Regions from separate parts of the Homo sapiens genome. Here all the other regions are linked to region 1. Evidence: fine-mapped expression QTL. A gene starts in region 1. Each other region holds a variant in brackets. All regions are shown on one strand. Distances are from middle to middle.

What was found. PIP is the estimated chance that this variant, and not a neighbour inherited with it, causes the effect.
Region 2: its variant is the best candidate, but not a certain one, in a credible set for the expression of IPO11 in skeletal muscle (GTEx, PIP 0.61).
Region 3: its variant is the best candidate, but not a certain one, in a credible set for the expression of IPO11 in whole blood (TOPMed, PIP 0.52).

What each region holds. Positions count from the first base shown.
Region 1 is chr5:62,410,224-62,414,465 of GRCh38, forward strand. It overlaps IPO11 (importin 11), which reads left to right and starts at 2,540. Exons shown (of 30, transcript NM_016338.5): 1 at 2,540-2,706. RefSeq lists an enhancer at 2,461-2,650 and a silencer at 2,981-3,030.
Region 2 is chr5:62,368,650-62,372,891 of GRCh38, forward strand. KIF2A (kinesin family member 2A) reads left to right here. Exons shown (of 21, transcript NM_001098511.3): 17 at 3,789-3,902. Among named protein-coding and RNA genes, the nearest start is that of DIMT1, 33 kb to the right of the region's middle. The variant C/G (reference allele first, on the strand shown) is at 1,867.
Region 3 is chr5:62,688,243-62,692,484 of GRCh38, forward strand. No RefSeq gene overlaps it. Among named protein-coding and RNA genes, the nearest start is that of LRRC70, 110 kb to the left of the region's middle. The variant C/T (reference allele first, on the strand shown) is at 1,752.

The DNA of each region.
Region 1 (4,242 bases):
GCATTTTGGCATTTATTTATTTCCAAAAGTGGGACATTCTGAACATAATGTTTTGCAACCCTCTTTTTTCACAATGCATTGTGCATGTGTAAACATGTCAACAAATACACTTCAAGATAATTTTATTTTGTTTAATTAATTAATTAATATATATTTTTTTGAGACAGAGTCTCCCTCTGCCGCCCAGGCTGGAGTGCAGTGGCACGATCTCGGCTCACTGCAACCTCTGCCTCCTGGGTTCCAGCAATTCTCCTGCCTCAGCCTCCCGAGTAGCTGGGATTACAGGTGCCTGCCACAAAGCCCAGCTAAATTTCTGTATTTTTAGTAGAGATAGGGTTTCACCATGTTGGCCAGGCTGGTCTCGCTCTCCTGACCTCCAGCAATCCACATGCCCCGGCCTCCCAAAGTGCTGGAATTACAGGCATGAGACACTGCGCCCGGCCTATTTATTTTTTCTTGAGATGGAGTCTCGCTCTGTCGCTTAGGCTGGAGTGCAGTGGTGCGAACTCGGCTCACTGCAACCTCCGCCTCCCGGCCTCAAGCGATTCTTCTGTCTCAGTCTCCTGAGTAGCTGGGATTACAAGCGCATGCCACCACGCCAGGCTAATTTTTGTAGTTTCAGTAGAGACAGGGTTTCACCATGTTGGCCAAGCTGGTCTTGAACTCCTGACCTCAGGTGACCTGTCCGTCTTGGTCTCCCAAAGTGCTGTGATTACAGGTGTGAGCCACTGTGCCCGACCTCAACATAATTTTAAATGGTCAATTTGTATTTTATTATGTATGGATGTATTGTGATTTAATCATTTGTGTCATTGGTGGTTGTTTAGGTAATTTTATCTTTTTACTTTAAAAAACAGCCCTTGTGTGATCGACATTCTTGGAATGCAGAGCTTGGTTCAAATCCTAACATGGCCTTTTACTAGCTGTTTGACGTTAGGTGGGCTACTTGACTTCTCTGTGCTTCAGTTTCTTCATCTGTGAAGTGGACATAAAGAAAATACCTACCTCATAAGGGTTGTTCTGAGGATTAAAATAGATAATTCCCATAAAGATCTTAAAACTGTACCTGGAATATTCTAAATTAGCAATAAAGGTTTTCTATTATTAATATTTTTGAACACTCTATTTCCTTACAACTTCTTTTACTATTATTATTATTATTTTGAGACGGAGTTTTGCTCTTATTGCCCAGGCTGGAGTGCAATGGCGCGATCTCGCCTCACTGCAACCTTTGCCCCCAGGGTTCAAGCGATTCTCCTACCTCAGCCTCCCGAGTAGCTGGGATTACAGGGGTGCACCATCATGCCCAGCTAATTTTTTATATTTTTAGTAGAGATGGGGTTTCTCCTTGTTGGTCAAGCTGGTCTCGAACTCCTGACCTAAGGTGATCTGCCCGCCTCGGCCTCCCAAAGTGCTGGGATTACAGGCGTGAGCCACTGTGCCTGGCCTTACTATTATTATTTTTAAGAAATATATAGTTGGTGTGTATTTTTAATTAATTTATTTATTTTGAGACGGAGTCTATTTATTTATTTATTTATTTATTTGTTTATTTATTTTGAGACGGAGTCTCGCTCTGTTGCCCAGGCTGGAGTGCAGTGGAGCAATCTTGGCTCACTGCAACCTCTGCCTCCAGGGTTCAAGCGATTCCCCTGCCTCAGCCTCCTGAGTAGCTGGGATTACAGGCGCCCGCCACCGCGCCAGGCTAATTACTGTATTTTTAGTAGAGACAGGGTTTCATCATGTTGGCCAGGCTGGTCTCGAACTTCGGACTTCGTGGTCCGGCCGCCTCAGCCTCCCAAAGTGCCGGGATTACAGGTGTGAGCTACTGTGCCCACCCCTTATTATTTTTGAAATGGGTGTGTGTGTGTGTGTGTGTGTGTGTGTGTGAACTCTCTATATGTCCCAGGTTGGCTTCGAATTCCTGGGCTCAAGTGATCCTCCTGCCTCCATATCTGGAGTAGCTGGGACTACAGGCGCGCGCCACTGCGCCTGAGTAAGTTCTCTTTTTAAGGATAAGAAAATTTAGGTGACTATGCTAGCTTTTAGCAGAGGCAAGCAGAACTGGATTTATGTCCTTTTACATTTTTCCACTCTTGCTATTACTCAGGAGTAAGCGCCAAGCAATTTGGGTAACTTAAAAAATAAATATTTGCGGGAGGGAGGGTGGACTGATGGGAGTAAGATTCTTTAAATAACTCTTCTCTGCTGTGACGGATCCGCTATTGATATCTAGAATATAAAGCGTGAAATGGTTCTGATTGAAGCTTCAATCAACGCAGGAAACAATTGAGCTCCCTGGGAGTCGGAGAAACCAGACCTATGGTTTCCATGGTGACAGATCCGGCTAGTCCGGACTCCTGGCTCTTTATACTGCGCAAGCGCACTGCGCAAGCGCACACAACTGATTTGGATACCCCGCGCCTTTTGGTTCAAAGACAAAGCCCCTCCTTCCCCTTCCCGCCGTTCGCCTATCGCCTTCTCTCTCTGCCGGTCGCATGCGCGCTGGTCTCCTGTGACGTAGTTTTCGCGCGTCCGCGTCGTTTGGAGCTGCGACGCCAAACATGGCGTGTTCCTAGAAGCCGCTTTCGGCATCAGTAGGCGGCGGCGTGGGGTCTGGCAGCGTGGGGAGAGGGACCAACCGACGCCACTTCGTGTTGGGAAGTGGGAGCGGGAGGGCCGGGCAATTCCCGACCGAACCAAACGGTGAGGCCCCGGCCCGAGAGCCACCGAGCGCGCGGGAGTGGAAGGGAGTGGGTTGGGCACCCGAGTCCCGAGAGGCGGGAGGAAAGTGGGGCTACCAGGAGATGAGGGATAACGGTAGCGAGGCAAGGGCGGCCTGCAGACTTGGCTGTTTGCGCAACCTTAGGAACCCGGGGAACTGGGGGCTGGCCGAGGCAGCCCGGGAGTGGGCAGCATGGTAGTGGAGCAATCAGGGTGCGGGGTGGGAGGGACCGTATGCTAGGCTGAGCAGAGGCGAGTGTACCCATCGTGACCGCGGTTGCGGACCTGGGTGATGCATTTGCCCTTGGGGGATAGGTGGTGCAAATTTTGAGATAAAGTGGTTATCTCGAGTATAAGACCGTTGTGCATTGTTACTGCGCACGCGACCTTGTTGCTAATAGCAATAGTGTGATAGCTTTAAACATTAGACCCTTACATGCTTTTAATGAAAAAGTGAAGGTAGTTGTCCGTTTATAGAGAGGAGCTTCATGGAGAGGTATGGCCGCCAATTCTCAAGCTCAGCGACTCCTGTAGATTTATATTTGGGGGTATTTGTGATTCAGCAAAACTACTTTTGCTTATTACGTGTGTCATTTTTTCTTTATTATTTTGTGACATGTTGGTGAATGAGAGAAGTACTATCTGAAAGTGATTTGACTAAATAGCAAGGACTGGTAAATTACCTACTAGTGCCAAGGTTGCAGTTGACATACCTCCTCCCCTCCATAATTTAAACGAGCTCAGTTGTAGCGCGGTAGTGCCCTTCAGATTTCGGTTATTCTTCAGAAGGAAGAATAGTTTGTAGCCATAATGCTTTTCCCCCTCCTGGGATAGGAATTTTCTTCCTCCATTTTCATGTTATTTCAAACTTCTCTGTTCAGTAGAGGAGCTTCAGATTAAGGGCAGGGTGACTCTTCTATAGGAGACATCCATTGCATGACACATATTACATCTTTCATCACTGAGGAAAATTTCGGTGAAAGTAGAAACATTTTCCCTTTTGGTTATGATGGGACTGGTATTTTCTCTGTTTCTGCAGTAACCTAGCACAGGGTATAGTAGAAACAATTAATTATAGTAGTGGCTTGTGGCCATATATTATAGTCTCAGGGTAGGAGGGTGGTCTCCGCCCTAGTTGAACTTCTAAGGCCAAAGAGAATTTTCACCACAAACACATTTGGCTGTGGTAATGTTAGAGGTTTTAAACAAATATGTAAAGATTATCTGATCATTAATAGAACAATTTTTAGATTTTGTGATGTTTGAATATATTTGCATTTGGAATCAAACCAGAATGCAGCATGATCCTTGTAGGCATGTGGCTATTAAAATACACTGAAGATTTTTCCAGAAACAAAATTTTTTTTTCTCAGCAATAAAAATATTCAAATTTTGGGTAAGGTAATGTTTGATTATTTGGATTTTGACCTTTGTGTTATATATTTGTACCTGTGTGTGTGTATGTATGTAACCTCACTTCTAATTTAGTGTTATTGATGGTAATATTTTTTCCTTTCT
Region 2 (4,242 bases), 42 kb before region 1:
ATCTGTAGTCCCAGCCACTTGGGGGGCTGAGGTGAGAGGATTGCTTGAACCTGGAATGTTGAGTCTACAGTGAGTTGTAATTGCACCACTGCACTCTAGCCTGGGCAACAGAGCAAGACCTTGTCTTAAAAAAAAAAAAAGTAATAGAACTACATTTCTAAGTATGAACTATTATATTTTGTAAATTTAATCCCTTTAAAGTTTGAATTATGAGCTCCTAGCTGCAAATCCTTATTGTGTTAGTTTTAATTGATCTTGGTAATTAACGTTTTTGATATGTGGGATTTTTATCATTAATTTAAAATGTTTCTTATTTCAGAATAATTCTTGAGAAAGATGAGGAACAGCCTAGTGTAATAGATTCTTGCCATGTTGTAGAATTAAAACAAACAAAACCCCTCTGTTTCTTAAGATTTGAAACTACAAAAGATTCCTCCCTAATATTGTGAAAATGCTATATCTAGCTGTTCCTCTAGTTCACTTAGGTCAAAGTAAAATGTTTTAACCTACTGTTATATCATGTAACTCACTTGCAACATGACTAACCATCTGGGACACTGTATTAATCGGTTCTCACACTGCTACAAAGGAATACCCGAGACTGGGTAATTTATGAAGGTTTAATTGACTCACAGTTCAGCATGGCCACAGAGGCTTCAGGAAACTTACAGTCATGGTGGAAGGTGAAGGGGAAGCAAGGCACCTTCACCAGGCAGCAGGAAGGAGAAGTGCCAAGCAAACTGGGGAAGAGCCTCCTATAAAACCATTAGATCTTGTGAGAACTCACTATCACGAGAACAGCCTGGAGGAAGTTGCCCCCATGATTCAGTTACCTCCACGTGGTCTCTCCCTTGACACTTGGAGATTATGGAAATTATAATTTAAGATGAGATTTGAGTGGGGACAGAAAGCCTAACCATATCAGACACATAATTGTTTCAATTTTATTTCCAAATCTCTAGGAATAAAGATTTTTAACCTTCCTTGATACTCATACCAATGTTTTGTGACCTTAAGAGTCAGTAATTTTTTTTTTTAACAGCCAAAAATAATTCATTCCTCCTTTATACTAAATCTGCCTTATTTTTTTTAGGCCAATACTTTGAGGTGGTGGGTAGGTGGCATTACATTAAAATTTCATATTTTTAGGAAACTATTTCTGTCTTAAGTGTTTAAACTTTTTTTGTATTTAAGACATAGCTTAGTGATTGAAGTGTTATTTCTCAGGACAAAATAGGTTTAATAACTTCCTTACTACTTAATGGTATCAAAGCCTCGGGAAAGTTACTTAACCTCTCTCTGTCTTTATTTCCTCATCTTTAGAATAGACAGCTAATGACCATGTCCATCTTAAAGGATTGTTTTTGAGGACTAAAAGAAGTGATCTGTGTAAAATGTTTAGCACAGTACCTGGGATATATTAATAGGAATAGTTATCCCTATTGCTACTTTAGTGAGCAGTTCTGTCTAAAAAATTCGGTTAGACAGATGTGAAAGCAATGTTTTTTCATATCCTTATATTAGAATCATATACTTTGAAAGTTTTATATGGGAATTGTGGGATAGTTTGTAACAGTACACATTGCTGCTAAGTGATTAAGTTGACAAGTCTAGTTCATCAGATGACAATTAGAGATACTTTATTTATTTATTTATTTATTTAAGATGGAGTCTTGCTATGTCACCCAGGCTGGAGTGCAGTGGCACAATCTCAGCTCACTGCAGCCTCTGACTCCGGGGTTCAAGCGATTCTCCTGCCTCAGCCTCCCGAGTAGCTGGGATTACAGGCGCCCGTCACCACGCCCAGCTAATTTTTTTGTATTTTTTAGTAGAGATGGAGTTTCACCATGTTGGCCAGGCTGGTCT[C/G]GAACTCCTGACCTTAAGTGATCTGCCCGCCTCAGCCTCTGAAAGTACTGGGATTACAGCATAAGCCACTGCACCCAGCCAGACAATTAGAGATATTTTAGAGGAGAGTACAAGGGAAAACTTTCAGAGTGGAAGGAATGGTTGTCTCAAGGAAAAAAAATTTATAGGATATATGAGAAATAGACAGTGGCCTCTATCCTGAAGCAGAGATACTTAATCTTTGGGTAATGGAAGAGGTTAGAGTGATTGGGTCTTGGGTAGAAGAGTGATTAGAGTGATTAGGAGTTTTTAGTAACATGTTTGAAGAATGTGATTCTTGTATGTAGTATAGTCTGGCTTGGGCAAGAGGGCTTTGGATAGAGGAAAAAATGTGTGGATGAAGCTAATAGGGTGTCTAAATTAAAAGATTTAGATAAGAAATGGGGTGGGAGTGAAAATAGTTGTTTGTATTAGAAATTTAGATTTTTCAGGCCAGACGCTGTAGCTCATGCTTGTAATCCCAGTACTTTGGGAGGCCGAGGCAGGAGGATCACTTGAGTCCAGGAGTTTGAGACCAGCCTGAGCAACCTAACGAGACCTCATCTCTACAAAAAAATAAAAAATTAGCCGGGGGTGGTGGCACACCAGTGATAGTCCCAGCTGAGGTGGGAGGATCACTTGAGCAGGAGGTCAAGGCTGCAATGAGCCATGACTGAGCCACTGCAGTATAGCCTGGGTGATATGGTGAGACCTTATCTCAAAAAGGAAAAAAAACATATTTAGATTTTTCAGCATGTGTGGTAAATAAACTTTAAGGATAAAAGGCAGATGAATCCAATATTGAACCTTTGACAGTAGATATTAACCAATAGGTCAAAGAAAGACTGTTAGTAGAGGAAACATATTAGTTTGATTTATATGAAGATATTGATACTTGTTTTTGACCTAAAAAGAAGGGAATTTCATTTAGTTCAACCTAAGAGAAATGACAAGAAAATCAGAGAATATGGTTATTATATTGAAGTGTTTAAATAACATAGGCTTTGTACTCAGGGCTAGGTTTTAACCTCAGTTATGCCACATTCTCAGTGAATGACCTTAGAGAAGATACTTTATTTCTGAGTCATTTTTCTCATCTATAAAATCAAAGATGGTTGAAGGACTAAATAATATAATGCCTAAAAATGACTAATCCTAATACCTGACATACAGGAGGTACTTAATAAATATTTTATATGGGTATGAAATAGGGTTGGCCCAAAAGAGACATAAGGAATTACATAGATGGGGTGAGAAAAGTCATAATTTGGTTAAATATAACTATTGAAGATGTTAGCAAAAGCAATTTAAATTTCATTGCTAAAGGCTGTTCTCAACCAGAGTTCTTCATCTGAATCACCAACCACTGAAAATAGAGTGAATATTTTCTCAGTTATACCAAGGACATTTCACAGCTAATGCCATTCTGGATGCATAGGAAAGAAGTTAATTCATTACAAACAATGGATGCCTTAAGACATTAGGACTTAATTCCCTTGTGTCCTGTTTGGAAAAGACTGCAAAAATGTTGAAGACTCATGAATGCTAATAAACAAATAGTCATGGTACTGACTACATGAAGAAATTAGATTGAGTGGTCATGTAGTTAGGGGGGCATTTCAGATTTAAGTGACTTAGTTAAACTTCTAGGAAGGATTATGAGAAAAGAGGAAAATACACCAGAAAGGAAAGACTTAGGACTATAGAGCAGGGGATCAATAGAACAAAGATGTTCAAAAACCTCTTAAAATTTGTTATTTGTAAAATAATATTCTAAATACATTGTCACAACAATATCAATATCCTTTTCTAAACAAAAGTGAATACTAAATGAAAATGTGCAATGTGCATTGCTGTCTTTCAAGAGCATTTTCTTTTAATTTGTTGCTCTTTTGGTGCTGCAGAGTAAAGGAGTTTGGAATTAGTCCATCAGACATTCCCTTCTCACAGGGTAGTGGCAGTCGCCCTGATCTCTCTCCTTCTTATGAATATGACGACTTTTCTCCTTCAGTTACCAGGTCTACTTCATTCTATACATAAGATGTTTATTTGTATACTTTCTTTTGAATTGTGCTTTGTATAAACATTTCATTTGCTATTTTTGTCCTGAGCCATTTTAGTTTTCATTGTCATTTCATTTGGCAGGTGGTGGTTGTACTGCATGATCTGCATTCTTACATCTTTTATTAATTTGTTTGCTTTAAAATGTTGATTTAGAATTCAGGCTTCCTATTTCCCCCTCATATTTTTAAGGATGATGTCACTTTTGCATACTTACCATTAAAATTACCATACTTACCATCGAATTGTTAAAAGATAAATTATCTTGCTTAAAATGAAGAGATTGCCTTTATGCTG
Region 3 (4,242 bases), 280 kb after region 1:
ACAAAGGCAACATTTGAAGAACAGAAAACTGAAGTCAGTAATCTTAACTGACACAACTTCACATTGCACTTTTTAAGTTTCATTTAAAACTTTGGGTCAGAATGTATACACTAAGGTATTATTTGGACAAGTAACACTTCCTGGGTTCCTGGGAAGCTTGCTTTTTTTTTTTCCTTTTAGAAAATAAAAGGGTCTTGTTCTGTCACCCAGGCTGAGGGCTGGAGTGCAGTGGTGCAATCATAGCTCACTATAACCTCAAACTCCTGGGCTCAAATGATCCTCCTGCCTCAGCCTCCTGAGTAGCTGGGACTACACATGCATGCCACCATGACCAGCTAATTTTTTAATTTTTAATTTTTGTAGAGACATCTTGCTATGTTGCCCAGGCTGGTCTCAAACTCCTGGACTCAAGTGATCCTCCCACCTTGGCTTCCCAAAGTGCTGGGATTTCAGGTGTGAGCCACCATGCCTGGACCCCGGGAAGCTTTTTGCCTCTTCTCCTGTCCCCTCCAAATATGCCATCTGCCTCCCAATGCCTAACATTTTATTAACAACAGAAAAGCCTTCCTTTCATTCAATATAAGAAATAAGTTTAAAATATAAAATATACTTGGGAGAGTTAAGAAGGTAAGTGACGTGTTCACACCAAGACATTTTATTTCAAGCCAATGACAGATTATTCCACTTCTTTTTTAGGTTTTGATGAAATATAGGAATGCCTGCTTAAAGGGCTCAGTAGACAGGAGGGACCACCACTATTTGAAGAGATGAGAGTTGAAAGATAGTAGAAGACTGAAGAGGGGTATTGATGCTTGGTAGTTTGGTTGAGAGCTGGCCCAACCAACCTACAATACAGAAGTTTCAAGAAGTTCTGTTGACTTGTGCTTTTTAAAAATCCTTCTTAAGAAAACAATCATAGTTATATGTTTGGCTAGTCAAGTCCATGCCATTATAATGAGTTTGCATCAGATTTATTTGAGTGTGTTAAAAGGGAAACAGGCTGGGCATGGTAATCCTAACACTTTGGGAAACTGTAATTCCAGCACCTGTAATCCCAGCACTTTGGGAGGTTGAGACAGGAGGATTGCACAAGCCCAGGAGTTTGAGACCAGCCTGAGCAACATAGTGAGACCCCATCTTTACAAAAAATAAAAATAATTAGCTGGGTGTGGTAGTGTGTTCTTGTATTCCCCACTATTTGGGAGGTTGAGGCAGGAGGATCACTTGAGTCTGGGAGGTTGAGGCTGCAGTGAGCCGTGATTGCACCACTGCACTCCAGTCTGGGTGACAGAGCAAGACCCTGCCTCAAAAAAAAAAAAAAAAAGAAAAAAATTTTTTTACAAGAGGAAAATTGATCATGATCATATTTCTTCCTTTTCCAGCTATAACTCCCGGAAATAGGTATAAACAAATGCTGGTGTGTGGGACTTTTTGGCAAAATCATCCCAGGATTTCCTCAGGAGACAGGAAAAGACTTGAAGTCCTAAAAATGTATCTTTAGGGCAAAATAAACCCACGCCAGTTGGGTGTGGCCATCAACACTCCCAGAGGCGGAGTCTGCATTTTAGCAATGGTAGCGGGCCTGCTCCATGAGTATCTGATGAGATAGCTCCTTGGAAAGTGGGTTGTGAACCATAAAACACCACATCTGTTGCGTTATTAGGTGAAAGCCTATTGGAAAATCATGGGGAAATATTTTTTCACAATTGCAGCTTCTGGCTTGGTGAACACACGGAAGTGCTGCCAGGGGG[C/T]CCCGGGAGGGCATGGGGACTCCGTGCCCCAACCCCACTTCCGTGCCCTGCACATCTCTTCCACTCAACTATTCCTAAGTTGTATCCTTTATCATAACCCAGTAAACATAACTGAAAAAAATCAAAAGTGAAACTACTTAAAGCAAGATTTAAAAACATCTAAATGCTGAAGTGATTAGAAAGGGTTTCAGTTCTTGATAAAAAACAAAGTTCAGGAGTGTTCCTCAAAATGGAAAAGAACTGTAAAAGCCACTAACTCTTCTCTGAAGTTTAAAGTAGACCAGATGACTCAGGGCTTTTATTAGAAAAGTTTTTGCACAATAGCTGTTTCACCTTTTGGTGAAACAGCTGAAACTCAGGCAGAAATGCTAAGGAAAAGCTAAAGTCCTACTTCAATTTATTTAAACTGCCAGTTAGCAGGAGCCTAATGTATGCAAGTCAAACCCACTGCCGTCTTCCTGGCCCCGGGTCCTGACTCCTAAAGTGGCCACAGGAGACCCTGGCCTTAGAAAGAAATCTCTCCTGACCTCTCTAAGGATTATGCCGGGTTTGCCTGCCCCACTCTTCCCCCAGCAGAGGGTGAGAGAGCCTCTGACCATTCTTAAAGGCCGCCCTCCTTCACAAAGCTCCGGGACTTTCGAGTAGACAGGTCATGGTGGGGAGTGCTGGGGAGCTCCTGCTGTTTAATTTGGTTTGACTAACAGAAAGTGTATGCAGAGTGGCCCTCTTACCTCCAAGTGGCTCTGGTGTGCTCAGTCCCCAAGTTTCCTATTTATGTTAGTAAAATTTTTGGTACTCTGAGTCCCTTTGGTTTGTGGTCATTGGAAGAGACAGAGGTTGACCCCTTTGTTCACCCTCATCCTGGACAGCATCTGGATGGGTCTTGCCCTCCTGCCTTACTGAGTCCAGTGCTAGGGGAGAGGACACAGCAGGCCCCTGCCCCTGAAGGAGACTGCATTGGAATTTTTGCCAGGTGGCCCTGACACATAGGAATGCCCAACTACTGTGACTACCCTCTGAGATAAAAAGCTGTCCTACTGATTTTAGAAGGCCAAAATTAGAGGTCATTTTGGAGGTCATGCCAGTGGACATATAACAGTTTGAAATGCTTGTTCCCCGGTGCCGTAAAGAAATAGTACTTGAACTTAAATTTATTCAGCAAGGCCATTTTTATTTTCTGCAGAAAGGGTACACTTGGCAGCAGTTTTGCCACGAGAGTACCCCGAACAAAGGAGACAGGGTCATTTATAACCTGACGCGTCCACCCTTCTGCTGTGTCCGGTTTCCATTGGCTGGAACAGGACCTCACATTCTGTATTTGTCCCGATTGGCTAGCAACTTAGAACTTATTAAAAGAGGCAAAGCTAGAGGAGAAAAAAGGAAGGAGGAAGTAACTTGTGGAATGCTGAGAAAGGTAAAAACACCTTTAAATAAGGAAGAGAAACAGGCTATGAACTAATGCCTGCTTGGACCAGTATAAGCATGCCAGGGCAAATATTTAGGCTAAATTGTGGGAGCTAAGAACATAAAGTATATTGGTTTTCTTATTACGACTAGCAGATATTTAAGAATGTTAGCACAGGTTTTTGAATAAATTTTGCTTCTAAGAGAAGTTATTATTTATTCCTAATTAAATGGAGAGGAAAGTCTTTGAAGAGGAACCTCTATTTTTACATAGAACCTTGCCTGGTAGCGCAAACTAGAATCAAGGAGTCACAGAGAGTTAGAACTGGAAGAACCTGAGTGATCTGTCTCCCAGCCCAATTTCTTCCCGTACCAGTGTGGAGATGGAGAGTGAAAGTGACCCATCCTGGGCTGCCCAGCCAGCGGAGTTAACACAAGAACCTGGGGTTTCATCCTGCCAGTTGAGGTTGCATTGTATATGTTTGTTTTCCATTCTTTTTTTTTTTTTTTTTTTTTTTTTTTTTGAGACAGGGTCTAGCTCTGTCAGGCTGGACGGAATATAGTGGCATGATCTTGGCTTGCTGCAACCTCTGCCTCTTGGGCTTAAGTGTCCTCCCATCTCAGCCTTCTGAGTAGCTGGGACTACAGGTGCACACCACCATGTATTTTTTTGTATTTTTTGTAGAGATGGGGTTTCGCCGTGTTGCCCATGCTGGCCTCAAATGCCTCAGCCTCCCAAAGTGTTGGGATTACAGGTGTGAGCCACTGCACCTGGCCTGCTTTCCATTCTTACCTCTGTGTTAATGACACAGCATTTTCAAGACAGTTTTGTTCCTATTCTTTACCCTCTGCAAAGGGTGTTCTTGATACACAGACACACACACACACACACTTATATGTTTTAGGCAATTGCAGATATTTGCTTCTAGTCCAGGGTGCCAGTTACAGAGGTCCCCATATCTGCTGCTTTGAGGCTAATGCTGAGCTGTGGGATTATTCTTTTCATGAGCCCCCTGGCTCTGCTGCTTGGTTGCAGGGCTGGCTCAGATGACTAAGAACACAGGACCACAGGAGCAATGGTCCAGTG